Regions from separate parts of the Homo sapiens genome. Here region 2 is linked to region 1. The links come from fine-mapping of genetic effects on gene expression. A gene starts in region 1. The other region holds a variant in brackets. All regions are shown on one strand. Distances are between the middles of the regions.

What was found. PIP is the estimated chance that this variant, and not a neighbour inherited with it, causes the effect.
Region 2: its variant is the best candidate, but not a certain one, in a credible set for the expression of LAMP3 in lung (TOPMed, PIP 0.86).

Annotation. Positions count from the first base shown.
Region 1 is chr3:183,161,412-183,164,317 of GRCh38, forward strand. It overlaps LAMP3 (lysosomal associated membrane protein 3), which reads right to left and starts at 1,323. Exons shown (of 6, transcript NM_014398.4): 1 at 1,196-1,323. The coding sequence starts at 1,244. RefSeq lists an enhancer at 502-711 and a silencer at 1,324-1,533.
Region 2 is chr3:183,129,839-183,132,744 of GRCh38, forward strand. The region is part of intron 5 of LAMP3 (lysosomal associated membrane protein 3); the gene reads right to left. Among named protein-coding and RNA genes, the nearest start is that of LAMP3, 31 kb to the right of the region's middle. The variant T/C (reference allele first, on the strand shown) is at 1,489.

The DNA of each region.
Region 1 (2,906 bases):
AGACAGAGTCTCACTGTTACCTAGGTTGGAGTGCAGTGGCATGATCTTGGCTTACTGCAACCTCCGCCTCTTGGGTTCAAGTGATTCTCCTGCCTCAGTCTCCCGAGTACCTGGGATTACAGGCGCCCACAACCATGCCCGGCTAATTTCTGTATTTTTAGTAGAGGCGGGGTTTCACCGGTGGCCAGGCTAGTCTCGAACTCCTGACCTCAAGTGATCCGCCGGCCTCAGCCTCCCAAAGTGCTGGGATTGCAGGTGTGAGCCACCACGCCTGGCCTGTCAATACCATTGTGTTTCTGAGCCTATCCATCCATTCAAGGAGCGCTCACATACAGGTCACTGTGGGTTACCGCTAGGCTGAGATTGTTTTGCTTTTTTAATAGCTTGCCCTGTGGAGCGTGATGATGACTTCCTCTTCTGTCCCCTAAAAGAACCTGAAACTGTAAGTGTGAAAGTGTGGCGCAGGGGAGAACTGCCTAGGCAAGGGCAGCTGGCACGACCCTTCTCACCTCTTCCCTAACATTCCTAGCATTCATGTTACAAGCAAGGGCCACCGCGCCCCCTGCTTGAGCATGTTAGCCGGGCGGTAGGGACGGAGACAGTTCTCTCATGACGTTCGAGTAACCAGGAAACTTCATCACAGGGACAACACCACAGCACCCGAGGACTCAATGTCTAGGGGGAAAAGCTCTGGAGAAAGCGGAGGGTCGGATCATAAAATAATCATAAACTCAGCGTCCCAGACGGCATCTGGGATGGGAAGTACAATGATCATTTAAAAAAAAAAAAGTCTTTGACACTCTTCCTACACCTTTCTGAAATGGCACAATCTGTCAGACCACATCTGATGCAAGGAAAAGCAAGACAGGAGCGCTTTTCCCGGATAACAAAGCCAAGACTCCCATTCCTAAACCCTAGCTCAGGTCTCCATCTCTTAAATCCGAGTGACCTCTACAAACTCTCCCTGAGAAGGTGTCCAGAACCCTTTTGGAAGCGAGGGACAGTGTCACTGTCTTTGGGGTTGACACCTGCTCTGAGTAACTCACGGAAAACAAGTTCCAGCTGGGAAGCCCTTGGACGCGCCACACCTCCCTACCCGCAGCCCGTCCTGTGGCGCCCGGGACTCCAGAGTGCGTTTAGATGAAAGGGGACCGACACGTCAGGGCCACCGCGGGAAGCGCTGAGGGCCACTCACCGGCCAGGGACGCGAAGAGCGCGGCCGCCGCGCTGAGCTGCCGGGGCATGGTGGGCGCTGGGCGAGGTTCTGCAGCGTGCGGCGAAGTCCGGGCAGGCCCCGAATCGGTGCCAGAGAAACCTACCTGTGCCGGAGAAACGAAACCACCTGCTTATGAGAAGCAGCCGAAAAGCCCGCCCAGGGCCGCTGGGCGGGGAGGGAAACTCCGCCGGCCCCCTCCTACCCCTACGGAGCAGGGAGGGGCGGGGACTCGGCGCAGCCGCCGGGGCCCGGGCCTCTGGGACCGTTTACCGCACGCGCGTGGTCCCGGCAGCGCCGGCCTCCTCCGCTCATACCCTGGGTCTCCTCCTTTCTTTTTCTTTTCTTTTTGAGACGAAGTCTCGCTCTGTCGCCCAGGGTGGAGTGCAGTGGCGCGATCTCGGCTCACTACAACCTCTGCCTCCCGGGTTCAAGCGATTCTTCTGCCTCAGCCTCCCGAGTAGCTGGGATTACAGGCATGCACCACCACACCCGGCTAATTTTTGTATTTTTAGTAGAGACGGGGTGTCACCATATTGGCCAGGCTGGTCTCGAGCTCCTGACCTCGTGATTCGCCCGCCTCGACCTCCCAAAGTGCTGGGATTATAGACGTGAGCCACCGAGCCCGGCCAGGGTCTCCTCTTTTATTTCTTTTCTTTTTATTTCTTTTGTTTTGTTTTGTTTTGTTTTGTTTTTTGAGACAAAGTCTCGCTCTGTCGCCAGGCTGGAGTGCAGTGGCGGGATCTCGGCTCACTGCCCTGGTTCAAGCGATTCTCCTGCCGCAGCCTCCCGAGTAGCTGGGGTTACAGGCGCCCGCCACCACGCCCAGCTAATTTTTGTATTTTAGTAGAGACGGGGTTTCACCCTGTTGGCCAGGCTGGTCTCGATCTCCTGACCTTGTGATCCGCCCGCCTCGGCCTCCCAAAGTGTTGGGATTACAGGCGTGAGCCACTGCGCCCGGCCCAGGGTCTCCTCTTTTCTAACAGCTCGGGTACCTTTCTGGGAACCCAGAGACGCTTCTCAGCCGGGAGAAAGCCAGCCACTAGGCGAGCAGGAGCCTAAAAACCCCTAAGCACCCTGACTCCATGTCTTCCCAGGGAGTCTGCGGCAGCCGCGCTCCACGCCCAGGCCTCGCCAGGACCGCGGTTTGCGGGAAGCAACAGGAGCACAGCCCAGAGGCGCTAGGTCTGGCTGGGAGCTCGCGCTGCCGACTCCCCGGCGTGCGGCGTCGGGGAACCTCTAGGAGCCTTGGATTCTTCAGCTGTAAAACGGACATAATAATGCCCACTCCCAGTGTGTTTTTTTATTTTCTTTTTTCTTTTTCTTTCTTTGTTTTTGTTTGTTTGTTTTTGTTTTTGTTTTTGAGACAGGGTCTCACTCTGTCGCCCAGGCTGGAGGGCAATGGCGTGATCTCGGCTCACTGCAAACTTGGGTTCAGGCGATTCTCCTGCCTCAGCCTCCACAGTAGCTGGGATTACAGATGTGCGCCACCACGTCCGGCTAATTTTTTGTATTTTTAGTAGAGACCAGGTTTCACCGTGTTGGCCAAGCTGGTCTCAAACTCCTGACCCCAGGTGATCCGCCCGCCTCGGCCTTCCAAAGATCTGGGATTACAAGCGTGAGCCACTGTGCCTGGCCCCAGGTGGTTTTACAGACCAGAAAATCCTGGAACAAAAAACACACAATATCGTTT
Region 2 (2,906 bases), 32 kb before region 1:
ATGTATTAGGACACAGGGTCTTTCAAGAAGTCAGTAAGTTAAAATGAGGTCATTAGGGTGGGCCTCTATCCAATATGAATGGTATCCTTACACAAAGAGGACATATGGATACAGACAGGTACAGAGGGAAGACCACGTGAAGACACAGGCCATCTACAGCCAAGGAGAGAAGTTTCAGAAAAACCAATGCTGCTGAGACCTTGACCTTGAATTTCTAGCCTCCAGAACTGTGAGAATATACATTTCTGTTATTTAAGGCATCCAGACTGTGGTATGTTACTAAGACAGTCTTAGCAAACTAATACACCCTCACTCCTTTTTTTTTTTTTTTTTTTTTTGAGACGGAGTTTCGCTCTGTCACCCAGGCTGGAGTACAGTGGTGCCATCTTGGCTCACTGCAAGCTCTGCCTCCCGGGTTGACGCCATTCTCCTGCCTCAGCCTCCCGAGTAGCTGGGACTACATGCGCCTGCCACCACGCCTGGCTAATTTTTTGTGTTTTTAGTAGAAACGGGGTTTCACTATGTTAGCTAGGATGGTCTCGATCTCCTGACCTCATGATCCGCCCGCCTCGGCCTCCCAAAGTGCTGGGATTACAGGCGTGAGCCACCGTGCCTGGCCTCACTCCTTTTCTTAATTTAATTTCAAACTATTCTTATTTTGCTGCAGTATTTTGGCACAGTGGCCATGCAGTTTGTTTTCATCTTGCTCATGCTTGAGCGTGGCAGTCGAGATACTCCATTTCCTATGATGCCGTTTGGGTGAATTATGGTCTTTCTTTCCATTGCATCTGAGATCAGTTAATGTTTCCCTTTGGGTTAGATATTTGGATTCTATTCTCTTTTTTGTAGCATGGAAACTAGCTGCAGCCTGGAGCGATCGTCTGCTTTGGGGTTTCTTCCCCAGTTCACCTCCGTCTGTCCCTCCCTTTACTCTTCCCAGTCTTCCTGGGAGCCATTTTCACTACCCTAGGTTGGAAAACGAAGAAAATAAAGCAACCCACTCTTTTTTTTTTCCTCCAGGTTTAGTAATGGAGGAGTTCACAGAATTTTTTTCCCTCTCATCACAGGCTTCTTAGGGTGAATGTGTGTGTGGTTAGGAGGGGAGGCAGGTGAGGAGCCCAGCTCCACTGCCCCCTCTGCTCTCCACCTGGAAAGTGGGCAGGACTGTGAGTAAATTACACATCCAAGCGTTTATTTACTGGCCATTCCAATGAAACCTTTGCTTTTTGTGGTTACCAGAATGCTAATTCAAATTAATTCTAAAAATAATCAGTACTGGGGTCGGGGGAATAGATAGCAGGAGTCCAAGCAGTGGCCATCATCCAAAAGAACTCACTGAAGAAGGTAGGGAGGAAAATTAAATTTAAGTGGTCATATCCCTCTATACTTGATTTTAAATTCTGCTTCTTGTTTCATCTGCTAGGGGAGAAATTTCCACATGCTAGAAGGTAAATCTTACATTAATCATTCTGCAGAAGAGTGAGTGGC[T/C]GGTGAATAAACACCTTGTCCTCTGCCCTACAGAACTTTCGAGTGCCCTTAACACTGGACACAGGGGAGCCTGGAGCAGGTGCCAGTTTGAAGGAGGAGGTGGAAGGAGATCACAGCTCTCCAAAGCCAAGCTCTTGCTGTTAAGCCCGAGTCTCTTTGGGGAACTCCCGGGTCCTCATATCAGATTGTCATCAACATCTGTTTTAAGAGGGAAACAGACATTTTCTGACACTCTGGATGTCTTCAGGGGCTCTTAGTGCTCTTTTGAAGCTGCGGTGTGCCCTCCCCACAGCCCCAATTCTAAGAAAACAAGGAGAGCAAAAATGCCTCCTGGGAGAGTCAGTACATTTCCTAAGTAGGCAGTAGTTTTAGAGTTGTTGCCAAATTTCATAAATGTCATGTTAAAAATAATGAATGGCACCTCTGGAAAATTTGGAAAAACAAGAAAACTTCCAGTCAGTAGAATCAATTAAGAACATACCTCTCCTTTTTCTCTGAATGAAAAACCCCCATCAATGTAATAGGAAACCATGAATAACATCCTAAGCCATATTTTAATAGAATTTTTCCCTCAGATATCAACCGTCCCCCATCAGGAATGTACTGCTTTTGGTGAATGTTTGCGTAAAAGGGAAGTGAGTGATCCTCCAGGCAGGTCTACCTCTTCCTGCTTGCCATTCCATATTGTCTCCCTGCTCTGTCTCCCTCCTGTCCTGCAATGGTCCAAATGGACACATTTACAAGAATAAAATAACATCAAAGAAAAGCCGACAAACCCGGAAAAAAGTAGCTAAGAAGGCAGACAACACATGAAATTGAAGCAACTGAAGGGCTAACATTTATTGAGCCCCTCCTTTTTTGCCATGATCTTTGATATGTGCTTTAAATTAAAAAAGTGAAATAGGCAGTTTCCTAATTTTTTAAACTGATAATACATTACAATAGAGTAGGATATGTTTTTTTAAAATAATAGCATATTAAGATCATCTATAATTTAAGTAAACAAAATTTGGGTAAAATCCAGGAGTTTAAAATCATTTTGTAATCAACTTTGAAATGCATTGGTTTTTTTAAAGTAATGTTTTTAAAAACTGAAAATCAGGACTCTTGAAAATGTATAAGAAAAATCAGTCAATTTGTAAACGTCTTCCCCACAATTCTCCCTCCGGGTTTTCGCTTTCTCCCTTCTCACAAGCACCCCACTCATGTCTCTGCCTATTGCCCCTAATTCCGGAAGCCAGCACTGGTATATTCAGGTATGGCAGAGGGCATCAAGCACACCTGGCATGGCCTCCCCAAAGCAACAGGAGGAAGTAGGGGAGGTGCTGTTTCCCAGCACTGCGGTAGCCCTTTGGTGGAAAGTTAGGTTTCCTAATCAGCTCAGGAGGGTGCAACAGGCAACGAGACAGGTCAATCCT